3 separate regions of the Homo sapiens genome follow, and all the other regions are linked to region 2. The links come from fine-mapping of genetic effects on gene expression. A gene starts in region 2. Each other region holds a variant in brackets. All regions are shown on one strand. Distances are between the middles of the regions.

Region 1 (5,216 bases), 32 kb after region 2:
CTTGGGCCACCCCAGCAGGGCCTGGAGCTTGGCGTGGGTGATGGTGTCCTTCTCAAGGCAGTGGCCCAGGCCACAGGTAAGGGGGACTGTGGTTGGAGGGACCAGAAGGACAGGAGCTCAGCCAGAGAAAATGCAGAGGTCAGGTGGATCGGAGAGATGGTGGAGAGAGGCTGTGAAACAGGGTTGAGGAGAAGGCTGAGAGGGAGGAGAGCCTGATGGGGACAGATTTGCAGGGGTGTGGGAGAGAACACAGGGGCAGCAGTTCAGGTGAGGGAGGACCAGGCATGTGCTGGGACAGGGGGTGTGGGGTGCAGGGAAGGGGAGGGCTGGGGAAAGATGCTGGAGGCAGAGACAGCAGGATTTGGGGGCTGAGATGGAAGGTTGGGGCTTAGAGAGGTCTGAAAGGACTTTGACTGGAGGGATTGGAAGGAGTGGGAGGAAAGAACATGGTGTGTGGGGGGCCAGCAGCCTGAAGGGGCCCAGCCGCCAGTGCTGGGTGGAAAGGCTGGTGATGCGGATGGCCCGCCTGCCAAGGGCCTGGAGTGCTCGGTGCTTATCATGAGGACACTGGGGAGCCATGGAAGGATTGTGAGCAGGCAAGGGGCAGCATCCAGGGGGAAGAGGAGCTGGACCCCAGCTGTAGAGAAGAGAGAAGAGGGCAGGAGAGATCTGGCAGACAGTGGATGTCAGGGTGAGGAGGCAGGAGGAATGCCTCCAGGATCTCCCTGGGTGACTGGATGGATGACAAAGCCGTCGGCAGCTTGGGACCCTGGTGAGGGGCAGGCACCTGCAGGGGGCATTAATCACCCCAGCGTGGGGCAGGCATGAGCAACCTCTATCTGTGGGCCCCCAGGGCCATCCAGGAAGTTTGGAAACGGGTCTGAGGCTCACCAGGTCTGGCTCAGAGCCCAGGGTTCGGGCTGGTCAGTGTAGGAGGGATGACCACCCACTGGTGGGTTCTCATCCGCCTGGGGAGAGGATGTGCTGGGAGCACTGGAGCTGGCTTAGGGCCATGGGCACCAACATTTAGGGAAGGCAGGGGTTTCAGGCTTTCATGAGAGGACAGAGGGACTGAGAAAGGTTGACTTGGATCAGGAAAGAGTTACGGGCTTATGGGAGCCAGAGGAGATGAGACTCAAGATTTTCTCACTCATTCACTCAAGATGTGTTTCGGGAGCACTGACGTCATACCAGACCCAGCACACACGGGGTCGGTTAAGAATACTCTGAGCTGCAGGTAACAGAAAACCCAACTACATTGGCTTGGACAAAGAAGGATCTGTTTTTCTCACAAAAGAAGTTGCAGATGCTGGCTTTCCTGCCCAACAATCCATGGCAGCTGGGGCCTCTTCCACTGTCTCATGCCTCCACCCTTGATGGGTCGTGTTCACACTCACACTGCTCTCCGTGCCGCCTTGTGGCCCCCGTGGCTGTCCAAGTCCCGGGTTTGTTGTGAGTTGTTGGCCACTTTGGAGAATCCCGTCCCCTTTGATGTGTGATTCGATAACATCCCATTGGTGAGGCTCACACTGTCGGCTCTCCCATTTGTGGCAGTTTCGCTTCAGGCGCGAGGCCCACCTTCATGTGCTCTGTGCCGCGGCTGAGCATCTGTGGACTGAAACGCGCACTTGTTCGTTCATTACGGATTGCTTTCCCTTTCATTCTTTTCTGTGTTAGGGTTAGGGCGTTATCTCGATAGGTGTAGGCAGGTTATGTTATCTCCACATTTTATTTCAGACCAGAAAAGAGGTGACACACAGTATCTGGTGACAAGGGTGTGTTGGTTCTGATAGGTTGAGAGCTGCTTGTCACAGCTGTCACCGTGACTTGAGGCTCCATCTCCCCAGCTCTTACACCCAGGCGCCCATGGGACCCAGCTCTGGACAGTAAGTGGGGCCAGAGCACATCCCACGTGTGTAAGCTGGTGGCTCCAAAACAAGCCGAAGGGTCTTTGGTCACTGCCAGAGATGTTCATGACCCGCCAGAGGAAAGGGTCCCTTGGCCTTCTCTGCTCTGTCCACACTCACTTCCCTAGTGACCTTGTCCCGCCTGTGGCTTTAAATCCCATCCGCGCCCTGATGACACCGGCCCAGATGTCTCCCCTGAGTGTGGTCATGCTCGTTCATCCACCGCTTTCCTGGCTCCACGTGCATGTTTGCTGACTTCCTACAGCCAGCGTGGCTGGGGGCACGTTCCCCAAGCCATTTCTACCAAGTGGGTGAGCGTTAGACACAGGGAGGTGCAGGGACTCGCCACAAGCACACACAGCTGGAGAAAATTCATCCAGGCCGCGAGAGAAGGGAGACACGCAGCCACAACTGTCACCCTCGACACCCCCACCCGCGCTCTCCCCTGAAGGTCGGCAGCTGGAGTCCGTCCGGGCTGAGGCAGCCGAGAAAGG[C/T]GACGTGGGGCTGGTGGCCGAGAACAGCCGCAGCACCCAGAGGCTCATGCTGCCACCACCTCCGCTCACTGCCTCCGGGGTCTTCAGCAAGTTCCGCGACATCGCCAGGCTCACTGGCAGTGCTGTGAGTGGGGCGGGCCGCTCATCCCGGACCCCAGACATCTTGGGGACCTGAGGCCACGCGTGTGTCAGGAAGGCTTCTGGGTAGACCATCAGCTGGGTCGCATCAGTCCTTCTCATGGGGTGCACAGCTTCCTCTCCTCCTTCCTGCACCCAATCCTAGGGGAGTCTCCTCTTCAGAGTCTAGCAGACCTAATGCCATGGCTGCCACATGACAGGACTCAGTAAATACTTCCTGGATAAAGGGAGAGGGAGGCAAGGAGGAGAGCTAGCTCGTTCTTACTGCCCTAAGAGTGGGCGGCCATGGGAGCTGGGACATGGGGATGGGGTGAGGGAAGGAGGGCAGGTATTCCAAAATGCAGGGCAGCAGCACGGCTGGTGGGGTGGAGGTGTGGTCCCTGCCTTCACCAGGCACTGACGGCTCTTCCCCTGACTCTCCAGTCCACAGCCAAGAAGATAGACATCATCAAAGGCCTCTTTGTGGCCTGCCGCCACTCAGAAGCCCGGTTCATCGCTAGGTAAGCGTGTGGGCCTGTGAGGCTACAGAGGGGGACTGCAGGCTCGGAGGTGAAAGGAGGGAGGGACTGGCAGCTGGAATCATCACAAATGCCCTGACCATCCTTGGATGAGAAAAGCATGAGCAGGAGGCCCAGCCCCTAAAGAGTGGGAAGGGACACCATTTCCTTTCACAGGCCAGCTTCTGTCCCTTGGTAGTGCTGTCTAGAGAAGGCCCCTGGGCCCCTGTGGGTGAAGCATGCTGTGATTGATTGGTGAGGTCTGCCTCGGCTTGGGCGCGGGCCCTGCAGCAGGAAGCCAGGGTTTGTTTGCCATGACAGTGAGAGCAAATCCATTGAGGGCTCACATCATGGAGCATTTCTTGGGAGCCCTGCCCTGTGCCCCGTGCCTTACCTCATCAGTTCCTACCAGCAACTCTGTGAGACTGGTCTTGTTACCCTCACCTCCAGTTTATAGAAGGGGAAATGGAGACATGGGGAGGCAAACTAAGCCACTTGTCTCCTGCCACTGGCTCAAAGCAAGGACCATGCTGGGGTCCTGACCATTACAGTCACCAGGGCGGGCGCCAGGCTCAGTTCTCTCCCTGACTCATCCTCCTCAAGCCTCGCCAACCCCTCAGGGCAGCTGAGATGGGAGGTGCTGGTGCACCTACTTGTGCCCCTCCCCAGTCTATGCTAGTGGGCAGGATCATTACTGCCTGGCTCAGTTTCCTCATCTGTCACATGGGGCTGTGTGATATCTGGGGTCCCTTCCAGGCTCTGAAGATTCTTCTGGTTTTTGAGGAGAGGGTCTACATACATCAAGGTCGAGGAGATCAGAGAAGGGAGGAGGCAAGATTGGGGAGGTGCAGACAAGCCCCCTTCCCTGGCCTGCTCTCTCCCCAGGTCCCTGAGCGGACGGCTGCGCCTTGGGCTGGCAGAGCAGTCGGTGCTGGCTGCCCTCTCCCAGGCAGTGAGCCTCACGCCCCCGGGCCAAGGTGAGCTCCTGTGGCCCGTCTCTGCATCCCTCGCTGGAGTTACCTCAGGCTTCCCCCCTCCTCTTCAGAGGCCCATGCCCGCCCCTTCCCCAGCGGGCCCCTGCCATACCAGGCTCCTCTCTCCTGGGTGGGGGGGAGGGGGCGTCTTGGGCCGCGGCATCTGCATTCCTTGCCATACAGCAAACCACCCACTGCACCCTGGTGTAGCCAAGGATGTGGGTGCCTTCCAAAGCCTCTGGTGGGTCTTTTCTTAGAATTCCCACCAGCCATGGTGGATGCTGGGAAGGGCAAGACAGCAGAGGCCAGAAAGACGTGGCTGGAGGAGCAAGGCATGATCCTGAAGCAGACGTTCTGGTGAGAGCTGGGCAGTGGGTGGAGTTGCCAGGGGCTGTGGGCAGAGTGCCAGGGTGGGGGTGGAGCCAGAGGAGCAGTGGGTGGGGCCAGTGAAGTGACGGACAGGCATCACGAGTGCCGGTCACGGGGTGACTGAGAGCAGAGGTGGTGATCTAGACAAGGCTGGTGCTTGACACAAGGATGGTGACAAAGATCAGGAAGGTGGCAAACAGTGAAGGGTCAGTGACCCCAGGAGAGGTATAGAAAGACGCTGGCAGCGGCCAGGCACAGTGGCTCACGCCTGTAATCCCAGCACTTGGGAGCCTGAAGCAGGCAGATCACTTGAGGTCAGGAGTTTGAGACCAGCCTGGCCAACATGGTGAAACCCTGTCTCTACTAAAAATACAAAAATTAGCCTGTAATCCCAGCTACTTGGGAAACTGAGGCACAAGAATCATTTGAACCCAGGAGTTGGAGGCTGCAGTGAGCTGAGATCACGCCACTGCGTTCCAGCCTGGGCAACAGAGTGAGACTGTCTTAAAAAAAAGAAAGACGCTGACAGCAAGGGAGGGCAGCCGGCAACATGAGGTTTCTGAGTGCCAGACAGGGCTGTGCATGCAGAAAGGCCTTAAGGGACCCAGAGAGGAGCAGGTGACTGACACATGGTGAAGGGTCTTGACAGTCATGGAGAGGACATCCGTGGAGCGGCCACGAGGGCTCCAGAGAGAGCCATGTGGAGGGACCTAGGCCAGCAGCTGACCCAGGGCTGGTGACTCCAAGATCATGACTGCCCCAGAGAGGATGTCAGAGGCAGGAGGGCCGATGGCAGTTCCACAGATGGCCTCAGAGCACCTGCTCTGGGCCAGGGCC
Region 2 (5,216 bases):
GCCGGGCATGATGGCAGGTGCCTGTAGTCCTAGCTACTCGGGAGGCTGAGGCGGGAGAATCACTTGAACCTAGGAGGTGGAGGCTGCAGATGGCACCACTGCACTCAAGCCTGGGCGACAGAGCGAGACTCCATCTCGAAAAAAAAAAAAAAGTCTGTAAGTCGGGCCCACACCATCTCTTGCTCCGTGAGTATCTTTGTCTCTCTAGCTCCTCTTCTTCTCTCAGTACATGTCCCTCCTTGACTCCCGCCTCTCTGCAAGGTGTATTTGGCTGCCTCAGTTGGCCTCTCCCCCTCTGCATCTCTGGGTGGGGTGTTCTCTGCCCGTCTCCCACCCACACCCACCCCCGGTGCTCCCCTTCCCCCCAGCAGGACAGCGGCTCAGGTTCACGCACCCCACGGCGGGCCGGCTGGGCGCACGCACGTCCTTGCACACAAGCCGCACGTAGCTGTACTTGAGCACGTCGATGAGCGTGTAGAGCGGGGGCGCACTGGCCCAGCGGCAGCGCGCCAGGTGCATGGAGCTCTTGACGAAGAAGAGCGCCAGCCGCTGCTGGCACCACGCGTCGAAGAAGCGGCTGAACTCGGCCCACGAGAAGAAGGCCCGCTCCCGCAGCTCCTGCTCCTCCTGCCCCGCAGCCGTGCCGGGTGGGGGCTCCGGCCGCTCCATCCTGGGGGCCTGCGTGGAGGAGGGGAGAACAGGTGGATATCAGACCCATTCCCACCCGGGGTATCTCATCTACTCCATTCTTGGCCTGCCCCGTCGGTTGCTGGTGCCTCTATCGAGGTGGGTAGCCCGGGGTCGGACGTGCCTGTTTTTCTCCAAATATATAAATATCAACCTCCATCCTATCTTTGGCCTCCTCCCACCGCCTTATCCCTGGTTCACTTGGAGCCTGTCATCTTGATTCCTAATTCCAACTCGTCTCCTCCTCCGCAGATGTGACCCTTAGGTACAGTTGGAATCTCTCCTCCCAAAATACGACCCTTAAGCTCAGATGTCCCTTAAGGACATCTCCTCAAATGTGTTCTCAAATTCCAGCTAAAACCTCCTCCCCTTCCAGCTGTGTCTCTCACCCAAGAGTAACTTCTAACTCTCGTATTCATCTGGAACTCCTCCTTCCATGTGCCAACAGTTGGCTGTAACCCCTCCAAAGACGCTCCATCTCCAGATGTGCTCCCACATCCAGGCCACGGACCCCTCACCCGGTCACATGCTTCATGCACCTGTGGCTCCGCACTCCCCAGATGTGCCTCTGGCGTGCAGCTGTTGCCCCTTCCCCCGATTATGACCCTATGGCTCGCCACATGCAGCTGTAGCTGGGGCTTCCCTGAGACACTCTCATCTCCAGATGTACTCCCCACATGCAGTTATCCACGCTTCGCCTACAGGTGTGTGCCCCACTTGTGGCTAGTTCTCCTCGGAAGTGTCACCAGTATTCACCTGTGGTCCCCTCCTCCTCAGATGCGGCCCCCAGTCCAGCTGTGGGCCCCTCCTCCCAGTTACATCCACCATCCCCCGCAATATGCATCTTCGTTCTAGACATGGCCCCTCGTCCTCGGATGGGCTCCTTCACCCCAGATGCTCCCCCCACGTCCAGCTGCGCGTCTCCCCTCGAGCAGCCCCATCCAGCCCGCTCCCGACCCTCCTACTCCCCCCCTCCCCGCCCGCTGCGGCACCTTCCAGCCCCGCCGTCCCACCTAGCTGTGCCTCTCCCCTCCCCAAGATGTGCACCCTTCCCGCCCCTCCCCACTCACCTACCCGCCCCGGAGCGGCGTCCACCTCCCACAATGCCCCGCGCCCAGGCCTGGCCCGGCCCTTGCTCCCGGGATGCCCCGCGCGGTCTCCCGCCTCTCTTCCCGCCGTGCCTCGCGGGGGCGCTTCCACCGATTCCTCCTCTTTCCCTGCCAGTCACTCCTCAGACCCTCAGCCACACCCGCTCATCCAGGGCGAGGGAAAGCGCGGGCATTTTCCCAGTGTGCTCTGCGGGAGGGCTCGCCCCACTTCACCCCTTTTCCCGCCCTCCTCCCATTCGGGAGACTACGACTCCCAGTGTCCTCCGCGCGACGGCGGCGGTGCGGACGGTGCCCAGGTCCCGCCCCTAGGCTCTGCCCCGCCCCCGCCCGCAGACGTCTGCGCGCGAATGCCGTGGCGCGAACTTGGGACTGCAGAGGCGCGCCTGGCGGATCTGAGTGTGTTGCCCGGGCAGCGGCGCGCGGGACCAACGCAAGGCAAGTGGGGCCGTCCGCAAGCAGATGGGAGGCGGAGGGCGGCGGGTGCGCCGAATGCTTGGGGCCTATGCTTCGCCATGTCGGGGTGTCTGCAGAGGAGTGGGCGTGGGGACGCTGAGGCTGCCGAGAGCGCGGTGGAGACGGAAGAGCGCGGGCTGCGGGCCGCCGGAGAGTGCAGAGAGGTGTCTCCCAGAGGGAGGGGGGCCAGGTAGAGGGTAGACGAGAGACAGAGACAGTTGGACAGGTCCTCTGAGAAGAGGCCTTGAGGTGCGAGTTCACCTGGAAAGGGGAGAGGCCAAATGGAACTGAGGGGCGGGGCCGGGGGGGGGAAAACTGTGTGGGCGGGGCCAGCTGGAAATCGGAAGGCCCCCCGAGGGGGCGGGGCTATCTGGGAGGGGGAGGGGCTGAAGGGAGCTAAGGGGCGGGGCCGGGGAAAAGATTGCGTGTGGGCGGGGCCACCTGGAAGGGGGAGGTGCCAAGGGTGGGGCTGGCTGGGAACCGGAAGTGCTGAGGGGGCGGGGGCCACCTGGAAGTGCTGAGGGGGCGGGGCTAGAAGAAGGTAAATCGCGGGCAGCAGCATCACCTGGAAGGAGTGGGCCCTACTGGAGGGAGATGGGTGGTGTCAGGGAGAGGTCAGTGGTAAGGTCCAGGTCTAGGTAAAGGGCTCGTAAAAGATGGAGAATCATCTGAATGGGGAGACGTCTGGCCTAATGTATGCTTGATAAAGGGATGGAGCTTACCTCTTGTTTTTACTTTTTATTTTGAAATAATTATAGATTCAAGGAAGTTGTGAAAAGAGTATATCCATCTTCCCCTAATGGTGACATCTTATGTAGTCCCAATATCGAAACCAGGAAATTGACATCAATACAGTTCTGTTAACTAGATTACAGACCTTGTTCAGTTTTCACCAGTTTGTGTGGTGTGAGTGTGATTGTGCATCTGTGTGCCCGTGCAGCTTGATTCCTTGTATAGATTTGTGTAACCCCCATCGTAATTGTGATATAGAACAGTTCCCTCTCCACATAAGAACTCCTCCCCAGGCCCCTGGCAACCGCTAATGTGTTCACCATCTCTAGTTTTGTCATTCGGAGATTGTTATGTAAATGGAATCATATATTATTAGGATGTTACCTTTTTTCTACTCTGCACAATGCCCTGGAGGTCCACCCAAGTTGTTGCTTGTATCAGTGCTTCGTTTCTTTTTATTACTGAGTACTGTTTCATCCTTACTTGATATTTTTCCTGTCATTATCTCTTCATTTTGGTAACCGCTTTATTGAGATATAATTCACAATTATACAGTTTGCCCATTTAAAGTGTACAATTTTGCCCATTTAAAATGTACAAGTCAGCGGTTTTCAGTGTATTTAAAGTGTATTTCAGTGTATTTAAAGTGCCCATTTAAAGTGTACAAGTCAGTGGTTTTCAGTGTATGCGCTGAGTTGTGCAGTTATTACCATAATCGATTTTAGGATATTTTTATCATCCCCCCAAAAAACTCCTATACCTTTTATCCATCATTCATTTAATTTTAACCCTGAACAATATTCTACCATATGGTATTCCAGTAATGAGGGAACCAGTTCCCTAAGGGTAGACATTCCACCAGTTTCCAGTCTTCTCTCATTACAGTTAGTGCTGCAGCAGGTAACTTTGTGCCTCACTTGGTCCACCTGTGAGGGTCTCTGTGGGCCAAATACACAGAAGTGGGGTTGCCGTTCCGATAGAGACGCCAGGTGGTCCTCCAGAGGCATCAACCAGTTTGTTCCCCCCAACTCAGCAGTACACAGAGTTGAGAAGCCAGCCTTGAGTACCGTGGTAAGGAGAAAGGAACGTGGGCTTTGGAGCCAGCCACACCGGGTTTTGAAGCCTTGCCTGAACCCCAGCTATGTTCCTCTGTCCTCATTACCTTCATCTATAAAGTGGGGATGATCTCACCTGTCTTGGAGGGCTGACTTGAGGATTGAGGGTATTTGAGAATGTGATCAGCCTGTCAGGCATAGAGTAGGCTTCCCAGTAAACGCTTATGTATTTCTCCTTCCCTTGCAACTCAGTCTGGTGGTTAAGAGGTGAGCTGTGGAGCAGGCCGACCTGGGGTGGAACGTACTATAGATGCAGGTTAAGTTCCTTTGAAAACCCCTCTGTGCCTTAGTTTCTGTAACAGAGTTGTTGTGGAGAGTCAGTATAATTGAGAATGTCAAGTACCTAGGCAGTTGAGCACTCAGGAGGGATCGTAATAGTTTTCTCCTTTGCCCTCAGGATTTTGGTGGCTAAGTCCCTAACCTGCTTTCTGTGTGAACTGTTTGGTTGAAGCATTGCTTACTTCCTGCTCCCCAACTGGCCCTGAGAAACTCTGTTTGGAAATTGCTGAGTTTCTTTTTTGTTTGTTTTTTTTTTTTTTTTTTTTTTTTTAAGACGGGGTCTCGCTCTGTCGCCCAGGCTGGAGTCCAGTGGTGCAGTCTCAGCTCACTGCAACCTCTGCCTCCTGGGATCAAGTGATTCTCCTGCCTCAGCCTCCTGAGTAGTTGGGATTACAGGCTGGCACCACCATGCCTGGCTAATTTTTTGCATTTTTAGTAGAGATGGGGTTTCACCATGCGGGCCAGGCTGGTCTTGAACTCCTGACCTCGTGATCCGCCTGTCTCAGCCTTCCAAAGTGCTGGGAGTACAGGCGTGAGCCACAGTGCCGGCCTACTGAGTTTTTTGATTCCAAAATTGAGTTTGAGTTGTGGTGCCAACATGTGGCGGCCAAGGCTGTAGAGAGTAGTGGAGACTTAGAGGCGTGTGGTGCGGGACAGAGAGTACTGATTCCAGAAAACGAAAGGGGACCCCATGGGTTGAAGAAGATTTCTGTGCAAAGGAAGGGAAAGTCAAAGAAAACCATTTCTGTTGCCCAGGCTGGTCTGAGCTGGTCTCAACTCAAGCAATCCACGCAGAGGTCCTGCTAGTCCTTTTTTAAAAAATATATTCATAGTGGAAGGA
Region 3 (5,216 bases), 50 kb after region 2:
ATGAATAAGAGAAAGTCAGGCAGGAGTGGGCGCCATGAAGAAAAGCAAGTCAGCTCCGGGCCAGCAAGGCGGGGCTGGGAGTGCCCCGGATGATCAGGAAGAGTCTTTCCCAAAGTGAGGGACAGAGCACTAGGGAGGAAAACCCCCGGTGCAGAGACCCTGAGGGAGGAGCAGCCTCTGCGTGTGCAGGGAGCAAGGGCAGGCGAGGCGGGAGGTGAGCTCAGAGTGGGGAGCAGGCCCCAGATGAGGCAGCACCTGGGGCCACTGTGAGATAAAACTGGATCTTCCTCTTGAAGGTTTCAGGAAGTCAGTGGGGGTTCCGTGCCGGGAGTCACAGGTTGTCATTGTGCGAAGCTCCTGGGGTTTCCCCTCGAGTGGAGGACGGGTGTGTTGAGGGCCAGCGAGCAGGAGCCTGTCATCAGTAAGAGTTGATGGATGTTTGAGTGGAGAGGGGCAGTGAGGGGTGGACAAGGGGACTGGAGCGGGAGGCATTGTGGCACTGAGCCGGCCAGGCCTGCTGACTAGCTCTTCCTGTGTACTTATGTCTGTCTGTGGCTGGTTTCCCTCCAGCACAGACCTTTCCTGTCTCAGGAAATAGCACTGTTGTGCCCCCAGGGCTGAGCTTCTGCCTGGCACATGGTTAGCACTTAGTGAACGTTTCTGAACGAATGGGAAAATGCTCTCCCTTTGGAGGAGTGGCCAGAGTGAGTTGGCCACGTCTCTGTCCTGAGGGAAAGACGGCGGCAAGGCTGACTCCTGAGGTCCCATCGATCCCGCCTGCGTTTCCCATTTGTTCTTATTTATTTATTTATTTATTTTAAGACGGAGTTTCACTCTCATTGCCCAGGCTGGAGTGCAATGGCACGATCTTGGCTCACTGCAACCTCCGCCTCCCGGGTTCAAGCGATTCCCCTGCCTCAGCCTCCCAAGTAGCTGGGATTACAGGCACACGCCACCACGCCCGGCTAATTTTGTATTTTTAATAGAGACGGGGTTTCTCCATGTTGGTCAGACTGGTCTCGAACTCCCGACCTCAGGTGATCCACCCGCCTCGGCCTCCCAAAATGCTGGGATTACAGGCATGAGCCACCGTGCCCGGCCCCATTTGTTCTTATTTAAACCTAGAAACCCTTCCCATGTCCAGTCTCTTCCCAGGGGCCATCCTTGGGGTTCCTTCTGGAAGTTCCCTTCAGACTTACTTCTAGTCCCTCCTCAGTCCACTGAGGAGCCCCTCCCCAGCAGTGAGGGCCCCGCCTTGGGCGCTCCCCCTTCTCATCTCTTGCCTCCCCTTCTCCCAGCTGAAGAAGGACTACCTTGATGGCGTGGGTGACACCCTGGACCTGGTGGTGATCGGCGCCTACCTGGGCCGGGGGAAGCGGGCCGGCCGGTACGGGGGCTTCCTGCTGGCCTCCTACGACGAGGACAGTGAGGAGCTGCAGGCCATATGCAAGGTCCTGGGGAACTGGGGCTGATGGCAGAAGCAGGAGGGAAGGAGATTAGACTCCCGGGGGTATTTCCTATTGCACAACCCAGACCGAGGGGTGCTCACATCCCCCTGTGAAGGATCCGTTCTCCCCAGTTTTTATTTACTTTTTCTGGTTCTATGAGCAACTCTTGCTTCATATAGAAAAACAGGCTGGGATAGAAAGATGTCAGGAATGTGTGTCAGTGAGAGATTGAGATTAGCTACAAATAGTGGTGGCTCACATAAGAAAAGAATTTTTTTGTTATGAAATGAGAAGTGTGGAGGGGGCAGTCTGATGCCATTAGGGATTCAGGTTCCTCCTCTCCCCACATTTTTTTTTGTCCCCACATTTTTTTTTTCTGCCATGTGCCTCTGGCCTCATCATCACAATGTGGCTGCAGGAGTTCCAGCCCTCATGGCCATGCCTGCTCCACGCACCAGGGAAGAGCAAAGGGGGTTGGACCCTGAGTCAGCCTCAGCCAGTGAACACCTTCTGCTCAAGTTCTGTTGCTCATCACTTTGCTCCATGGCTCACCCCTAGCTGCAAGGAATTCTGGGAAATGTAAAGTGATTTACTTTTTTTCAAGTTAAAGTTTTTCTTAAAGCTGTGCACATTTTGGACTAGATTTTCTTACGTATTTCCTATATTCCCCTCTCCAACAAATTTGGGTCTTTTGCCACAGAAACAGAACAAAATATCACCTAGAATCGTACCACCCAGAGACACGCAGTAGTGACATTTGAGGGAATGTTTTATTTACATTTTTGCAAAGTTGTGATCCTTCTCTATGAGTAATTTTCTTTTCTGCCTTTTTACCCTGGAAGTACTTTGTTTTCAGTGTTGTATATGCCCTTAAGCAATATGGCAACAGGACCTGAATGCCCGCACAAGAGTTTTCAAGTGCTGTGCCCCATAGCACATAGTGCTGTGTCCTGAACCAGCTCCCCGTGGCTGTGTGGGGAAGTTGTTGCCGGCTTTGTTCTGATGGGTAATGTGATTACTTAGTGTCCGTTAACCTAAACGATCAGTGACAGAAGTGACTTTTATAAATCACAAATGTTTTGGCCACCAATCTACATTGTCACCATTTTGCATTATTTAGAATAGATTTTTAAATGAGCTATTGTCAGGACAAAAGGCAAAAAGAATCCTTAAGACTCTCAATGCAAAAGGGGCTTTCCAGGTGA[C/T]GTTTATATTGGTGATTATTGCCCACTTGCTGCGTATCTGCCAGCATCCAGCATTACTGCTAATTTTTAGCCTTTCCTATTTTGGTAGGTGAAAGAAGCTCTTGGCAGTGTTAACATTGGAGATGGGCTGGGCATGGCCACTCACGCCTGTAATCCCAGCACTTTGGGAGGCTGAGGTGGGAGGATCACTTGAGCCCAGGAGTTCGGGACCAGCCTGGGCAACATAGTGAGACCCCACCTCTACAAAAACTTTTTTAAAAAATTAGCCAGGCGTGGTGGTGCATGCCTGTGGTCCCAGCTACTTGGGAGGCTGAGGCAGGAGGATTGCTTGAGCCCAGGAGGTGGAGGTTGCAGTGAGCCAAGATTGCACCACTGCACTCCAGCCTGGATAACAGAGCTACACCCTGTCTCAAAAAAAAAAAAAAAAAAAAAAAAAAAGACTGGAAGTGAGGACAGCCAGTTACTGGGCAGTGAGGATGTGGGTGAGCATAAGGGAGTGACTTCCTGGGGCCAGGGAGACAGTGGAAGCAGCAAGAGTTTCTCCATAAAGCAGAAGACAGGGAGTGGTTCACGGCAGGCCTGCTGGGAGAACATTCCCACCCGGGAGTCTCTGGATGGATGCTCCGCACCCCCAGCTCCCTACTTCCCTGGTTTTCTGTGGATACTGCGTAGACCAGAGTGGGGTGGGGGCCATGAGTGTACACAGCTTTAGATGGCAGGAGCAAGTGCTGGGCCTGTGGCTGGCTGAGCCTCTGACCTCCCGCTTCCTCCCTGCAGCTTGGAACTGGCTTCAGTGATGAGGAGCTGGAGGAGCATCACCAGAGCCTCAAGGTGAGCCATGGCGGCTGCGCCTCAGCCTCCACCCCTCTCCCCCCTGCCCCTGACAGCACAGTCCTTCCATGCAGGGCTCTTGGCTTCCACCATCTTGGGGCTCCAGGTGTGGGCAGGAGGGCAGCAGGCAGTGGAGCTGGCTTTGGAGTCCAGCATCTCCAGGTTCATGTCTCAGCACTGCCGGCTACTAGCTGGTGACCCTGCTCAAGCAGCCTCACCTCCCCAAGCCCTGTGCCTCATTCACACCAGGGGTTAGCCAAAGGACACAGCAGGTGCCATAGCTGCTCCTTGTGAAGTGCCTGTGAGCCCTGATCAATGTGAATGAATGTTGTCATGGTCACAGGCATTTCAGGCATGAGTGTCTGTCCTACATATTGGATCTGTATTAGTTTATTTTCATACTCATACTGCTATGAAGAAATAACCCAAGACTTGCCGGGCGTGGTGGCGCATGCCTGTGGTCCCAGCTACTTGGGAGGCTGAGGCAGAAGAATTGCTTGAACCCAGGATGCAGAGGTTGCAGTGAGCTGAAATCATGCCATTGCACTCCAGCCTGGGAAACAGAGTGAGACTCTGTCTCAAAAAAAAAAAAAAAAAAAAAAGGATCATTTATAAAGAGAGGTTTCCTGGACTCACAGTTCCACACGGCTGGGGAGGCCTCACAGTCATGGCAGAAGGCGAAAGAGGAGCAAAGGCACATCTTACATGGCGCCAGGCAAGAGAGCGTGTGCAGGGGAACTGCCCTTTATAAAGCCGTCAGATCTCGTGAGACTTCCTCACTATCACGAGAACAGCACGGGAAAAACCTGCCCCCATCGTTCAGTTACCTCCCACCAGGTCCCTCCACGACACATGGGGATTTTGGGAGCTATGATTCAAGACAAGATGTGGGTGGGGACACACGGACCCTGACACCATCTCTGTCCCACTCTTTGGTTCTCTCTCTCCATTGCCCTCTCTCTCTACATCTCTGTCCCTGTCCCACTGTGTCTCTGTCTCCTTCCTCCAGGTCTCTGGCCCTTTCTCTGCCTCTTTTTGTCTTTAATGTCCTGCCTCAGCCCCCAGGGCCTTTCATTTCTTTCCATCTCCCATTCCTCCCAACTCCCACCTTTCTCAACTTTTTACTTCAAGGGGGTCTTGTTTCTTTTCCCTTCTTTCACTTTCTGTTTCTCTTTCTATTTCTGTTTACTTCAAGGGGGTGTCTTGTTTCTTTTCCCTTATTTCACTTCCTATTTCTGTTTACTTCAAGGGGGTGCCTGTTTTTTTCCCTTCCTCCCTCTCCCCAGCCCTCCAACACTTGGCCTTGACTTTGAGATTCCAGACCCTCTGTTCCTCTCTTCCTCTGCTCACTGCAGGCGCTGGTGCTGCCCAGCCCACGCCCTTACGTGCGGATAGATGGCGCTGTGATTCCCGACCACTGGCTGGACCCCAGCGCTGTGTGGGAGGTGAAGTGCGCTGACCTCTCCCTCTCTCCCATCTACCCTGCTGCGCGGGGCCTGGTGAGTGGCAGAGGACCTGGCCGTGGCCCTGTGTGGGATTCTGGGCGGGCACACAGAGAGCAGAGTAGGGAGGGGACCTTGGCTCACATCTGCTCTTCCAGGTAAGGATCAGGAAGATGAGCTTGCATTTTATTTGAGTGTCAGATAAAAAGATCAAAACATTTTTTCTTTAAAAATGGGCCGGGCATGGGGGCTCGTGCCTGTAATCCCAGCACTTTGGGAGACCGAGGCAG

The links. PIP is the estimated chance that this variant, and not a neighbour inherited with it, causes the effect.
Region 1: its variant is fine-mapped to the expression of LIG1 in whole blood (TOPMed, PIP above 0.99).
Region 3: its variant is fine-mapped to the expression of LIG1 in whole blood (TOPMed, PIP above 0.99).

What each region holds. Positions count from the first base shown.
Region 1 is chr19:48,134,831-48,140,046 of GRCh38, reverse strand. It overlaps LIG1 (DNA ligase 1), which reads left to right. Exons shown (of 28, transcript NM_000234.3): 12 at 1-76; 13 at 2,359-2,525; 14 at 2,963-3,039; 15 at 3,922-4,013; 16 at 4,268-4,367. Among named protein-coding and RNA genes, the nearest start is that of LIG1-AS1, 8.4 kb to the left of the region's middle. The variant C/T (reference allele first, on the strand shown) is at 2,402.
Region 2 is chr19:48,167,256-48,172,471 of GRCh38, reverse strand. It overlaps LIG1 (DNA ligase 1), which reads left to right and starts at 2,128. Exons shown (of 28, transcript NM_000234.3): 1 at 2,128-2,231. It overlaps ZSWIM9 (zinc finger SWIM-type containing 9), which reads right to left and starts at 1,792. Exons shown (of 4, transcript NM_199341.4): 1 at 1,758-1,792; 2 at 395-678. The coding sequence starts at 669. RefSeq lists silencers at 1,600-1,739, 2,540-2,589, 2,620-2,689 and an enhancer at 1,987-2,646.
Region 3 is chr19:48,117,405-48,122,620 of GRCh38, reverse strand. LIG1 (DNA ligase 1) reads left to right here. Exons shown (of 28, transcript NM_000234.3): 24 at 1,299-1,451; 25 at 3,431-3,484; 26 at 4,840-4,983. Among named protein-coding and RNA genes, the nearest start is that of PLA2G4C, 9.2 kb to the right of the region's middle. RefSeq lists a silencer at 465-654. The variant C/T (reference allele first, on the strand shown) is at 2,654.